Linked DNA regions of Homo sapiens. The protein of the gene in region 3 purifies or fractionates together with the protein of the main gene of each other region. This does not show direct contact. Each region holds a gene or a part of one and is shown on either strand. Other genes may lie near its edges.

Evidence for each region. Proteins that work in one complex are often made in the same cells at the same time.
Region 1: the proteins of ADCY9 (region 3) and CYP51A1 purify together in Homo sapiens (affinity purification with mass spectrometry; one large-scale study listed by BioGRID and IntAct). This does not show direct contact.
Region 2: the proteins of ADCY9 (region 3) and FNDC3A purify together in Homo sapiens (co-immunoprecipitation; 2 studies listed by BioGRID and IntAct, with this or other methods). This does not show direct contact.
Region 4: the proteins of ADCY9 (region 3) and OMA1 purify together in Homo sapiens (affinity purification with mass spectrometry; one large-scale study listed by BioGRID and IntAct). This does not show direct contact.

The regions. Positions count from the first base shown.
Region 1 is NC_000007.14:92,117,441-92,121,111, forward strand, and holds part of CYP51A1 (lanosterol 14-alpha demethylase), read right to left. Parts: intron 1,176-3,671; coding exon 1,080-1,175; intron 1-1,079. UniProt on the Homo sapiens protein: Sterol 14alpha-demethylase that plays a critical role in the cholesterol biosynthesis pathway, being cholesterol the major sterol component in mammalian membranes as well as a precursor for bile acid and steroid hormone synthesis.
Region 2 is NC_000013.11:49,195,778-49,199,448, reverse strand, and holds part of FNDC3A (fibronectin type-III domain-containing protein 3A), read right to left. Parts: intron 2,573-3,671; coding exon 2,459-2,572; intron 1,725-2,458; coding exon 1,575-1,724; intron 1,468-1,574; coding exon 1,184-1,467; intron 1,088-1,183; coding exon 875-1,087; intron 1-874. UniProt on the Homo sapiens protein: Mediates spermatid-Sertoli adhesion during spermatogenesis.
Region 3 is NC_000016.10:4,106,310-4,109,980, reverse strand, and holds part of ADCY9 (adenylate cyclase type 9), read left to right. Parts: intron 1-3,671. UniProt on the Homo sapiens protein: Adenylyl cyclase that catalyzes the formation of the signaling molecule cAMP in response to activation of G protein-coupled receptors.
Region 4 is NC_000001.11:58,505,190-58,508,860, forward strand, and holds part of OMA1 (metalloendopeptidase OMA1, mitochondrial precursor), read right to left. Parts: intron 1,021-3,671; coding exon 871-1,020; intron 1-870. UniProt on the Homo sapiens protein: Metalloprotease that is part of the quality control system in the inner membrane of mitochondria. Activated in response to various mitochondrial stress, leading to the proteolytic cleavage of target proteins, such as OPA1, UQCC3 and DELE1.

The DNA.
Region 1 (3,671 bases), on a different chromosome or scaffold from region 3:
AACTAAAAATTATTTTAACTCAAGATGATTTCCAGTGAGCCAGCGTTGGGTTGGAAGTACACAGTACACAAATCAAACCCATAATGCCTTGGAGGTAGGGTTGGAATTTCAGAGAGGCTTTCACTATCAATTTGTACACTTCATATTAACAATTTTTTACAACAAAATGTTATTTTTAAAACCAAGAAAAATATGTACTTTGATTTTTAAAACCCCAATTGTTAAAGAAAAATGCAGAACATGATTAGCATTAAAGATTAGCATGTAGGCCGGGCGCGGGATTACACCTGTAATCCCAGCACTTTGGGAGGCCAAGGCGGGTGGATCACCTGAGGTCGGGAGTTCGAGATCAGCCTGACCAACATGGATAAACCCCATCTCTACTAAAATACAAAAAATTAGCCAGGCATGGTGGCATGCCCCTGTAATCCCAGCTACTTGGGAGGCTGAGGCAGAAGAATTGCTTGAACCCGGGAGGCGGAGGTTGCAGTGAGCTGAGATCGCACCACTGCACTCCAGCCTGGGCAACAAGAGTGAAATGCCGTCTCAAAAAAAAAAAAAACAGATTAGCACGTATACTATCTACAATTAGGTAAAAATATGTTTTTAGAGTATATAAAACTGAAGATTAGGTAGAAGTGATTATTCTACTTTTTTAATTTAAAAAAATCTCTTTTATGCTACTCTACTTCCTCTTTTCTTTTTCTTTCTTTTTTATTTTTATTTTTTTTGAGACAGGGTCTTGCTCTGTTGCCCAGGCAGCAATGCAGTGGCGTGATCATGGATTACTGCAGTTTCAACCTCCCAGGCTCAAGCAATCTACCCACATCAGCCTCCCAAGCAGCTGGGACCACAGGCATGTGCCATTATGGCCAGCTAATTTTTAGAAAAAATTTTGTAGAGATGAGGTCAGTCTCACTATGTTGCCCAGGCTGGTCTCAAATTCTGGCCTCAAGTGATCCTCCCACCTCAGCCTCCCAAAGTGTTGAGATTACAGGTGTGAACCACCACACCCACCTATTTCTTCTTTTTGATAAAAACTGGGGGTATAGAGGGGAAGATGTAGCCAAGATACTCACCTGAGGAGTTCTGGCCATTCTCATCATGATCATTATAGGAGGTCTAAGTCTTAATGTTTCTTTTATACAGCGATCAAGTAAATTTAGATCCTTGAGCTAAAATGAGAAAGCATTTCCTGATTGTTATAAATAACATACTTCAACAGTACAAAAAATTAGTTTAACTTCTTAGTTAGTACAAGACAGCTTGCATTCCAGCTAAAAGTACAGAGGTAACTGGTTCAGGGTGGCTGGGGTTATCATGCTCTACCACTGTCCATGGTGAAAAAGGAGGGCAAGGTAACAGAAGCGATTGCCCTGAAGAATGAAGTAAGAACCTACAAAAATTCACTCCTCCAAAAAATGAAAACAGTAGCAACAATCTTAATGTCAACTTTTTCAAAATTCTGGAAGATTAACCAAAGGCTTGCAACAATCTAAGGAGAGTTAATTCAAGAAAAAGAAATCTGAATCTTGGTAAGAAGAGTAAGCTTTGTGGTAGTGTAAGTTGTATTTCTTTCATCCTCCTCTCCCCAAATCCATGGTAGCCCCGGAAACCAACAGCATGACAACTATAGCAGCTGTGAAAGCCAGAAGCCTAACAACTATTAGAGGAGCCAGAGCAAATTTTCCAAAAATATTTAGCAAAAATTGTTTAACACTGAAGGCGCCTGAGATGGTGATATCAGTTGGTGCTAAGAGACAGAACAAGAAGTTTAAAAGGGAAAACTGGGGAGTAAGATGTCCACAGGAGACTTTGAAAAGTTCCAACATAAGAGAATCTTGAAGGCCACACATATGTATAAGACCATGCATATGCCCAGGTAAGATCTAAGAGGCTGTAATCTTTTACCTCTGGCTGACCTGTACACACAGGTAGTGAAGGCAGACTTGTAACTGCCTGTTGGAGTGTTAATAACATCCCCTAACACACACATACAGAGCCTTTCAGCAAAAGCTAGGAGACTGGCTGTTCAAAGCACTTCAGTAAATCTCTGTCCAAATATTAGATGCCCACTAAAGTAAGCAAGCAGAGATTTCAGTGACCTCACTGAACAAGGAATGACATAATTAATCCAGGAAACGCAGTAAACAAACAGCAGCAGCAACAACAACAACAACAAAGAGCCAGCAACAATAAACCCAGGGAGGAGGGCATCTGATTTCCACAGTTGCCACATTATTTTAAATGTACAGTTTTCAACAAAAAAATTACAAAAAACACACCAAAACAGGAAAGTATGGCCAGTACATAGAAAAAGCAAGCAGTTTAATAGAAACTATCCATGAAGAAGCCCAGACATTGGACTTACTAGATAATGAATTTAAATCAGCTATTATAAACAGGTTCAAAGAACTATAGCAAAATATGCCTAGATATCTCTAGTAAAATGGAGAATATCAATATATTATTTTTTTAGAGAACCAAATAGAAATTCAAGAACTGAGAAGTATGAGAACTGAAATGAAAAATTCACCCGAGGGGATCAACAGCAGATTTGGACTGGCAGAAGAAAGAATAACATCAAAAAAATAACAATAATAAAATACTTAAGAATACATTTAACAAGAGAAGTTTAAACATTGTGCACCAAAAACTATAAAACATTGTTGAAAGAAATTAAAGAACTAAAATAAGAGAAAGACATCTCATGTTCACAGATTTAAAGACTAAAATTGTGCTCCCAAATTAATATGGCGATACAATGCAATCATTGTCAAAAATCTCAGCTAGCTTCTTTGCAGAAACTGACACACTGACCCCAAAATTCATATGGAAACTAAAGGGACTAGGAGTAGATAAACAGCCTTGAAAAGGACAAAGTCAGAGGACTCACACTCCCGAATTCAAAACTTATTACAAAACTACGTAATGGCATCAGACTAAACATATCAATGGAATAGAACTGAGTCCAGAAATAAAGCCTTAAATTTATGGTCAAGAGGCTTTTTAAAATGTATTTATTTTTTCAGAGACAGGGTTTCGCTATGTTGCCCAGGCTGGACCCCAAGTCCTGAGCTCAAGCGACCTTCCCATCTCAGCTTCTCAGTAGCTGAGAATACAGGCACGTGCCACTGCGCCTGGCTATAATAGATTTTTTTACAAAGACAATTCAACGTGGAAAAAATAGTCTTTTCAACAAACAGTGTGGGACAACTGGATAAACACATGCAAAAGAATGATGACCTCACATCATATACATAAATTAATTCATAATGGATCAAAGACCTAAATGTAAGATATGAAACTACAAAACACTAAGAAGAATACACAGAAATAAATCTTCATACACTTTGATTAGGCATTAGTTTCTCTGACACCAAAAGCACATTAAAAAAAAATAGATGAACTCTTACAACTCAATAATAAAAAGACAACTCATTTTAAATATGGGAACAGGATGTGAGCAGACATTTCTCCAAAGAAGTATACCAAAGCCAAAGAACACATCATAAGACACTCAACATCACTAGTCACCAGGGAAATGCAAAATCAAAACAAAATACCAACTGGGCATGGTGGCTCACACCTGTAATCCCAGCACTTTGGGAGGCCAAGGCGGGCAGATGACTTGAGGTCAGGAGTTCAAGACCAGCCTGGCCAATATGGTA
Region 2 (3,671 bases), on a different chromosome or scaffold from region 3:
GGCTGAGGCAGGGGAATTGTTTGAACCTGAGAGGCGGAGATTGCAGTGAGCCGAGATCGCGTCACTGCACTCCAGCCTGGTGAGAGTGAGACTCCGTCTCAAAAAAAAAAAAAAAAAAAATTGTTTCGGTCAGGCACAGTGGCTCATGAGTTGTAATCTCAGCACTCAGTGAGGCTGAGCGGGGAGGACCACTTGAGCCCAGGAGTTCGAGACCAGTGTGAGCGACATGGTGAAACCCCATCTCTACTAAAAATACAAAAATTAGCCAGGTGTAGTGGCCCACGCCTGTGGTCACAGATACTTGGGGAGCTGAGGTGGGAGGATGGCTCCAGCCCTGGAGGCAGAGGTTGCAATGAGCCAAGATAGTGCCACTGGAGGCCAGCCTGGGTGACAGAGCAAGACCTTGTCTTAAAAAAAAAAAATTGTGTCCTGCTAGAAATAAACACTGAAGAGTTTATTTTGTATCTAAGATTAGGTGTCTTTTACTATCATGAAAACAGTAAATGGATTACAGAAAACAACCAAACAGTAGCCCACTTATTTTTTTCTCTTGGTATTCCACTCACAAATTATAAACAGGAAATGTACATTGTGTTTTCTAACGTTTTAAAAACAGCACACTTTTGTATGACAATCTTGACTTCGTTTTTGAAAACTTACTTCATTAAAATAAATTTTTTTTAGAGACAAGGTCTCACTGTCTTGCCCAGGCTGGTCTTGCACTCCTGGGCTCAAGCAATTCGCCTGCCTCAGCCTCCCAAAGTGCTGAGATTACAGGTGTCAGCCACCACACCTGGCCTACTTCTAATAGTTACAGAAATGTATATACTTAAGACCTAAGAAACTATATAAAGAAGCAATTAAAAAAACCTACCGTCCATTCTTATCCTCCATCTGAAGGTGGTACTGAATAGAATCGGTTGACAATGTCTTTGGAGTTCCTTCTCCCCATTTCAGCTTAAGGTTCTGGTGGCTAAAGGCAACACATTCCAGACGAGGTGGATCAGGAGGGAGAGGCTTAGTTTTTAATTTTATCATATGGCTGAAAGGACCAGCTCCAAGGCTATTCAAGGCTTGAATTCGTATTCTAAGTGCCACATAAGAAAAAAAGTTTGGTTATGATTGTTTTATTTAAAGCGTCTCTCTGGTCTAGGCAAAAATCAACATAATTTTTAGAGTATACCTGTATGTTGTATCTGGTTGCAAATTGTTGATAATATAGCTTGTAACCTTTCCCACTGTTAGGGATTGTTTATCTCCAAAGTCTATGCTGTAGGCAAGGATTTCCGAACCATGATCACAAGGCTTTTCCCAGCTTATTGCAAGGCATGTAGAAGGTGAATAATGGGGATTTTCTATCTCATCATCGCTTATTTCTTGAAGACAGGTCACAATGCCAGGAACTGATGGTGGAGTCACACAGGCTACTACTTCACTGAAAGGGCCTGCACCCACAACACTCAGAGCCTACAAATTAACAGAGCCTCCGAGTTAACAAAGTCATGACCATGAAAATGCCAATGAAATATAAAACTCTGGATAGAGTTAAGTGACAAGGTACTGATCATCTTTACCTGGACCCTGCAATAATAGGTAGTTGCTGGTGAAAGTCCTTTTATTTCATAACTGAGACCAGGCCCACAGTAACATATCTGCATACTTCCTTCAACTCCTCCCCACTCCAGTCGATATTCAGTGACATCTGTTCCATTACTCAAAGGAACCTTTAAATTAAGAAAAGGATAAAGGTCTTAGTCTTGATGTTGATTAAATAGCTTTTGGCCAAAAATGCTCTTTACCTGAGCACATGTAAAACTAGATTGCTTTTGAGTTTCTTTAAAACTTTTAAGCACAATCAAAACTGTTCAATTTTACATTTTTTATTCATTAAGATTATCTGAATTTAAGATTGGTCAAATATATAACTGTTTTGAATTAGAAGTAGAAATATGACTAAGTCACTTTAGAAAGAGTGTTTTAAGGTAAATATGTTTCAAGATAATTCTATTAATATGAAATGTTAAAAGCATACACACATTTTGTTAAATTTCAAAGGGAACTGAAAATATAATAATTATCATCACTGATTATTACTATCCACAATAAGTACACTGGAGATGTGTACTGGATAAATATAAGAGAAATAGAATTTACTAATTCCTGTGTATGTCTATTCTGAACATTAAACTTACAGTGGCTGAAATATCTCAGTACTGAGACAAAGCCATTCATAAAAATACAAAGCACATAATGAACAGGAATCTAAATATTTGTAATGCAAATATACCTTACTCAAATTCTTCAAAGAGGAAAAAGAAGTCACTGTTTTTCATGTGAATTAAACTAGGGCTTACTCTGTATAATATAGGCGGTAAAAATGAACAGTATCTTTATTCTTTTATATAAACTATTCTATTCACTTAAGAAAGTAGATACAAGTCAATGGAAATTACAATACCTCCCAATTCACTTGTGCACAAGTTGCAGATCTACATGTCACTTGAGGGGGCTTGCACTGATCTGGTGGCCCAGGGGCTGTAGTAATATCACATTTTTCTGAAAATGGTCCAAACTAGAAAAACAAATGTAACTAGTGTTTTTATTTTTCACCCTTAAATGTCCACTGATTGCACAGAACTGCATATTTAAAGATTCATTAATAAAGTCTTTTCCCTGTGTTTCAAGATTAATTTGGTCATAATTCTATAAGTATTCACATTAACTAAAAAGACTTAAAAATCATGAAAGTAAAGGTGTGAGAAATTTTAAAGTTTCATTTACCTATACTTTCTTCTGCCCCTTATTTCTTCAGGAAATGGTTTTTGTAAGAAGGGCAGGACATTAGGGAATGAGGTCGGTGGAATAATTCAGGAGAAATATAAGGAGTGAAGAAATTGATACTAATTAAAGGTACGGGAGATGGTAGGTGTAAATTATTATTTTTAATTTTTTAATACTTCACGAATCTTTCTTAGGCATATTCCATATCAAATTTTACCAACATTCTGTTCTATAAATTTGTTTATTTTGTAACAGAATTTGATTTTTCTGTTCCATGCTAAAAAGCTCACTTTCTCATAATTACTTTTAACATACATTACCCGGAATATAAAAAATTTTATTCAGTATTGGCAAATTCCTTCCCCGACACATAGGAGAACAATTACAGAAATTTCTTGTCATCAATTTTTCAAAGCTCATTAGCAAAAGAAAAGCCCCAATACACTGGTATTTTCACTTAACAGTGGCGCATCATTATAATGGTCAGAAGTAAACCTACTTGTTACTGCACTGTATCAGGCAGTTTTGCCAAATGCCCATCTTTAAGAGCTAGCTCAACTTCTTTTTTTTTTTTTTTTTTTTTTTTTGAGACAAGGTCTGGCTGGCTCCATCACCTAGACTGCAGGAGTGCAGTGGTGCAAACATGGCTCACTGCACCCTCGACTTCCTGGGCTCAAGCCATCCTCCCACCTCAGCCTCCTGAGTAGCTGGGACTACGGGTGTGCACTACCATGCTGGGCTAATTTTTCTACTTTTTACAGAGACAGGGTTTCACCATGTTGCCCAGGCTGGTCTCAGACTCCTGGGCACAAGTGGTCCTCCTGTCTCAGAGGGAGGACTGCTTGAGCCAAAGTGCTGGGATTACAGGCATGAGCCACTGGGCCCAGCCA
Region 3 (3,671 bases):
TGCTTCTCTGTGGGGGCGGACGATTGTTAGTTGTTCATCAGGACAAGGAAGGCCATGGGTAGCGTGGGAAGGAGTTTGCATTTGACCCCATAGGTGTCAGGGAACCACTCAACAGGGGGCTTAGGTGATCTGACTTGCAGTTTTAGAAAGTTCACTCTTTCAGAGCTAGTGAGTGTGGGTTGGAAAGAGATTAATGAGGTGTCGAGTAAATCCCAGGTAGGGGTGATGGTGGCCCAATCCAAAGTTACAGTAGCAGTGATGGAGGTGATGGGATCTGAGTGGCATTAGGAAGAGCAGCTTGATGGGACTGCAAGCCAGATTTAAACAAACGACTGGCAGGAGGGGAAGGGCTTGACCATGTGAATGGGAAATGGCATTTTAAGTTTCTGGAAGTGACTTGGCGACAATGTGGAGTCAGGAATGGGTGAGGGGCCTTTGAAGTTGCTATGGTATGAATGGAGAATGCAGGATGGACTTGCAGAGTACAGAGGCCCGGAACCCCTGGCTTGCTTACTCATTCAGCAAATCATTTACTCCGTGCCAGGCACGGTTCTGGGTTCTGGCAATACAGCCGTAAACAAAACAGACAACAATTCCTGCTCTTGTAATAGGGGACAAGAATTTTTAAGTCAATAATATAGGAGGATCGCTGGAGCCCACGAGGTCGAGGTTGCAGAGAGCCGTGATTGCACCACTGCATTCCAGCCTGGGCGACAGAGTGAGACCCTGTCTCTAAGAAACAAAAACCAGGCCTTCAAATAGGGGAGATCTAATAGAGGGGACAACAGGGGAGTCAAACCATAAATAAGTAAAATAGAAAAAGTGTTTTGTGAACAAACATAAAGCAGGAAGGGGATACAGCAGATGGGGTGTACGAGTGTGAGAAATCTTATCTAGGGTGGCCAGTCACTGGGAGAAGGTTGCAGGAATTTTTAGCATACTGCTAGGATTTTGGAAATAATCTAAAAAGTGAGGGGCCAGGCATGGTGGCTCATGCCTGTAATCTCAACACTTTGGGAGGCCGAGGTAGGCGGATCACCTGAGGTCAGGAGTTTGAGACCAGCCTGGCCAACGTGGTGAAACCCCATATTTACTAAAAATACAAAAATTAACCAGGTGTGGTGGCAGGTACCTGTAATCCCAGCTACTCGGGATGCTGAGGCAGGAGAATTGCTTGAACCTGGGAGACGGAGGTTGCAGTGAGCCAAGATTGCACCATTGCACTCCAGCCTGGGCGACAAGAATGAGACCCTGTCTCAAAAAAAAAAAAAAAAGTGTGAGGGACAGTTATTAAAGATATGGAGAAATGGGCCGGGCGTGGTGGCTCATGCCTGTAATCCCAGCACTTTGGGAGACCGAGGTGGGCAGATCAGGAGGTCAGGAGTTTGAGACCAGCCTGACCAACATGGTGAAACCCTGTCTCTACTGAAAATGCAAAAATTGGCTGGGTGTGGTCGCAGGCGCCTTTAGTCCCAGCCACTTGGGAAGCTGAGGCAGGAGAATCGTTCGAACCCAGGAGGTGGAGTTTGCAGTGAGCCGAGATCGTGCCATTGCACTCCAGCCTGGGCGATAGGGCGAGACTTTGTCGCCAAAAAAAAAAAAAAAAAAAAAAAAAAAAAATGAAGAAACGGTCTGATTAAGGTGAGGGACCTTCCACAGCATTTGGGATGAAACCGCTAGGCCTGAGGGAACCGTGGCTGTTGTATTCTGCCTTGGGCCACAAGCAAAAAATGGTGAGACGTGTTATCTCGAGCTGTTGGCTTTTCCTGTCATAGATACAGGGTCACAAAGACAGAAAATGAAACTGTTAGAAAATATCTACAGGCATCTTCTTTTCCCGTGTAAATATTAGGAAGACAGAATGAAGATGCTCCTCCGCTCTCATCCACACCCATGGTCATATCTCTGAAGAGGGGAATACCAGGGAGTGATCACATTGTCAGATGCAGAAATTAAAAAAGCTTTTTTCCCCAGCCAAACTTTATGCTTGTGGAGCAACTTGGGGAGGAGACCCGCTGGTATGCATTTGGGCAGATTGTCACCTGTTGGCCACCTCTGTGATCGAGACCTTTGCCTTAGAGGAGTTCCTATGTAGACCCTGTCTGGTGGGCCGACAGACCGACAGTGGACGGAGGCATTCTGTATGCGTTAGCCTCTGCAAACAAACACCTGTCTCATGCCGGAAATCTGGGCGCCCCATTAACCCTGAGCACGGGCCTGCCAGCTGACAGAACCCTAGCCAGGTGTTGGTTTGGGGTTCAGTTGCATGCTCAGGTGTTCCCCTTCCTTCCCCCGTTAGCTTGTCCCCACCTAAGCCTGCAACCCTTGCCACTGGGATGCTAACCCGTTAGCAGAGCTCAGTCTCCTTGCTTGGAAATTCTGTGTTGACCTGCACTGCATTCTTTTTTTTTTTTTTTTTTTTTTTTTTTTGAGACAGAGTCTGGCTGTGTCACCCAGGCTGGAATGCCATGGCGTGATCTCAGCTTACTGCAACCTCTGCCTCCCAGGTTCAAGCGGTTCTCCTGCCTCAGCCTCCCAAATAGCTGGGATTACAGGTGTGCGCCACCACGCCCGGCTAATTTTTGTATTTTTAGTAGAGATGGGGTTTCACCATGTAGGCCAGGCCGGTCTTGAACTCCTGACCTCAGGTGATCCACCAGCCTCAGCCTCCCAAAGGGCTGGGATTACAGGCGTGAGCCACCACGCCCAGCCTTGACCTGCATTCTTGAGCAGGATCTGTTATGCACGTGGAAATACAGCCTCTCAGATAGCAAATGGCAGAGATGAGATGAGGCACACAGTTCCCCTCCACAGCTGGGGTGGGAGACAGAAAACAGCAGTAGAGTCGACACTCAAGCTGCCCCCAGTGACCATTTGTTCAGGCTCTTTGAGACCTGGCTTACAGTGACAAGGACACAGCTGTTAATTCTGAAGACAAGCTTTCGAGTAGAAGTAACCTCTGGTAAAGCAAGAGAAGGTTAAGGTTTGCTGAATTGCCAATGGGATGAAGAAGGAAGGGAGGGCTGTCTTTTCAGGTAGAATGCCTAAGGAAGGGAAACATGGAGAAGGAACAATTAGAGCAAGTCAAGAAGTTTCAAGATTTTTGTCTTCTGGCCAGCTTGGTGAGATAGTAATTATGTTTCTGCATATTGGTCAGCGTTGCCTATGTACTTTGCTGTGGAATAGTAATCTTGGAAAAAAACCAACCAACCAACCCACATTAATCTGTCCATGTCTGGGCACAGAGTGTGCAGAAGCCTGCGTGGGCCGTAAGTCTCGTCTTTGTCTTGGTTGGTGATTTTAGTATTGGTGTTTTTGCTGGAATTCCAAAACTGTAAGAGTGTAATCATTCACCATTAGAATTCTGCAGGTCCCCTCCTGACTCTGGACTAGCTGAGCTTAGGGGCCTGTCATCCATCTGGCCCTGGGCATATCATTTGTACTTTGCCTGTGACACACCTCAAGACCTTTTCCAACAGGAACTAGCATCCCTGGAGGGAATTTTGTGAAGAGATGAGAGTTTTTGAAACAGGAAGGGAACTGGCAAGGGAAGTGGCCAGGCACCGGTGCTGCCGCGGAACAGAAGGGAAGGGACTGGGCTGCATCAGAGGGTGGATGTGGGGCCGCCATCCGTGGTGTGGGCCAAGGGTAGGGTGGTCCTCCCCTGGGAA
Region 4 (3,671 bases), on a different chromosome or scaffold from region 3:
GATCCACCCACCTCAGCCTCCCAAAATGCTGGGATAACAGGCATGAGAAAGATACTTCTATAATACACCTGGATCTGTTGTGCTATGCCTTAGCACATGGCCCAGTACCAATTCTTAAATTGCTAAAAAATGTTCCGCTTTCATAACAAGCCACCAAATTTAATACAAGTGAGATAGAAGAGAGCGTGTAACGTGGCTCAGAGATGCCTAACATCCATTTTGTCCTGATATGGAAACCATAAAAACATTCTGAATGATGTCAACAAATCAAAAGATTTTCAGAGGATACTGAAAACTACTTGGCAGAAAGCCGCCTCAGCTTGACCCACTTATGAATTCTACAGAAAGAAAAGCCAGAGAGCAAATGCTTCACTCTTATCTTCATAAAGAAATAAATAACCAGAAACAAACATGAAGATTTTTTTTCCTAAAAAAACAAATTCCAGTACCACTACTACAATTAATATCCACTTGACCCAAAACTTCTGTACAACTCATTAACTGGTATTTTTAACAAAAAGCTTAAATCACCAAGGAAAGATTAAATTATCATCAACATGTTTAAAAAACTTAATATGCCTTGAGTTTTAAACTTTCATCAAGTCAGTTAAAATTAAAGTCTCATACTAAAGGAGTTAAACCTTCACTATTAAGAAAAGTCAACTGTACATAGTAATTTATTCTCCAAGACTTGTGGACAAGCAGAATTTTGCTTTTCAGTCAAATTCTGTGACAACTGATAATCCATAATTATAGTAATCAAAATAGTTAATAGGCTAGAACTCTCTTTTACTAAGCAAAAGAAGTGACAGCATTAAAAATAAATGATACAGTAAAAATAATGTCCCGCCTTCTACGGTGTCAGCTCACCTGAGGTATAAGTCTATCCAAGTACTCAACTCGATTGCCATGAGAAGGGTGTGTAGATAACCATTCTGGCATCTTGGGTTGGCCATGCAGGCTATCAACGAACTCCATTTGCTGCCAAAACACTGAACTGGCTCTTATGTCTGCACAAGCCTAAAACCAAAATTAGTAAAACCACACAATGAGCTCAGTTTTGAGGATTTTTTAAAAACTACTACTTTATTTTTTTTTAATTCTATTATAATTATACTTTAAGTTTTAGGGTACATGTGCACAACGTGCAGGTTTGTTACATACGTATACATGTGCCATGTTGGTGTGCTGTACCCATTAACTCGTCATTTAGCATTAGTTATATCTCCTAACAACTTTATGTCACTACATGCTTTAAAGTCATTTTCTATCATCACTTTAATAAAAGTAGAACATGCCCATTGCTTAGAAAAAGACCCACCTCAAACAACATGGTATCACAGTACTGAAATAACAGAATGCCTGCCCTTCCCATATACAACATTCACAATAACCCTGCTAACCAAAGATAGCCCACTATTTTCAGTATGATGGATATTAAGAACATGTATTAAGGGTAAAATCTTTTACACAAATTAAAAATTCTGTTTTCATAAAGTTTTAAAATATAATGTTATTAAACTGTATTAAAGAAACTTTACTTCTATGCCACTAGAACAATCAGAAAAAAACTTCAAATAAACATAAAGAGATGACATGTTTATTATGCACATCAATTTACCCAATTTTCTCAATGTATATGGACAATATATTTAATTCATATACCTTATAAAACACAATACCTTATAAAAGTACAATATAAAAGTACATTAGTACTTTTTAAAAGAATATATGTAGATCTTGTGTATGTACAATTCCATCATACACTCATATACATACTCATACGTATATACTTGTATATGCACAGAACATATCTGAGAAGCTATTTAAGAAGCTGTTAACTACCCTAAGAATGTACCTGAGGTATCTGATAGTGGAGAGGGAGCAACACTTTTATTTCTGAACTATATTAAAATACATTATTTTATAATTAAAATTATTTTTAAATCCTCCATAAGGTGGATTATTAACAAATATTTTATTAATTTGTTCAATTTATTCACATTTCTTAACTTATTCTTTCTATAATAAGTAACTGGAAAACAAGTGGTTATATTTCCCAATGATTTTATTTTTGATTAAAACTAAGAAAAAATATATATACTATACTGACTAAAATGTACTCTCAAAAAGATTTATAATAGTGTAATTGTGAAACCCCAAAAGGCAAATATATTAATAGAACACTGCATGCTAGTCAACAACCATGCTACATCATTTCTTAACAAATACCATTAAAGCATTTCCAAATGTTAGCAAAATAAAAAATTTTAAATTCAAGTAAATCTTATTCAATATTTAAAGAAATATAATTCCTTAAGACCTCTGAGTATTCTAAGTTGAAAAGAATTCAAGGTACTTTATACACTACTGCACAGATATGGATATACATGTTTATATGTATATAAACAGGAATATACAAGATAAATGTATATAACAAACATAAATATTATTCATGTTTATACACATATAAATACATATCTATATATGCAAGATGTGTGTGTGCTTATGTGTAAAATATGTATGTAACATATGTATCTATAAAGAAATAATTATTTGATGCTGAATTAGAAACACCCAGAGGACTATGCCCCTCAATAATAGGTAATCACATTCACAATAAAAATACAGGCTGAGATTAACAAGTATTCTTCTCAAATAATTCATAAAAATATAAAATGACTTGAAAGAATTCTAACACAAACAAAAAACCCCTCTGAAAACTGGAAGATAAACATTTGAATGGACTACAAATTCACGAATTATCTAACATGAAGTTTGTCTGCTACACAAACCAAAGGCATACTTATCTAATTTTTTTAGCCTAAAACTGTTAATCAAAAGACAAAATATTTCCCTATTCAATCTCTAAGTAACACAGCTGAAGGGAATCTTTAAAGCAATATTTGATATGCAGAAATAGAAAAAGAAATTAATTATCCCTACAGACTAGAAAGTATTCCAAGCTAAAAGTATTAAAAGGGGACTTGAGATATCTACTTTAATGTTAAGATAAGAGTGTTGAGTTTGTCTGTACTTCTCAAACCCAGTTCAAAGAGCCACTAAAGTCAGATAATTTTGTTTCCAAAATGAGTATTTTATTTACATTTTTCCAATTTAGGAAAAATAAGTAACAGGTTGACATCAGCAAGATGGAAGAATAGGACGCCCTAAACCCTCCTTCCCCACATGAACACACTGATTCAACGATAATATACGAATTCCCTTTGTGAGAAATCCTGAAACTAGGTGCAATGCTTCTGCACCTGCACAAGTACGAAATGAACAACATCAAACCTGGTAGAAGACTGGAGACACCCTCTTGCCATAATCTGCGAGAGCAATTATGTACCCCCAATACAGCACCATATGATCATAAGAACACCTGCAGCTCCCCACCACTCCTTGGGGAAGGAAAAACTTGGCTTGTGTATCTAACATTCCAACTTTTCTAAGAGCTGCCCTAGGAACTGGCTTCTGTCTTGCCAGCCTTGTAGCACTGATGGAATCTAAAACGCCCTAGATATCTAGGGGCCAGTGATAATGTGACAGAAGTTTGAACAAGCACACAAGCAGTTGCCATGACCACTCCCTGAAGCTCAGCATGAAATGAGTTGGAGAGAAACTCCAGAGCCCAGCTTCTCCTGGGGCAGGGCTCGGGAAAGAGGTAG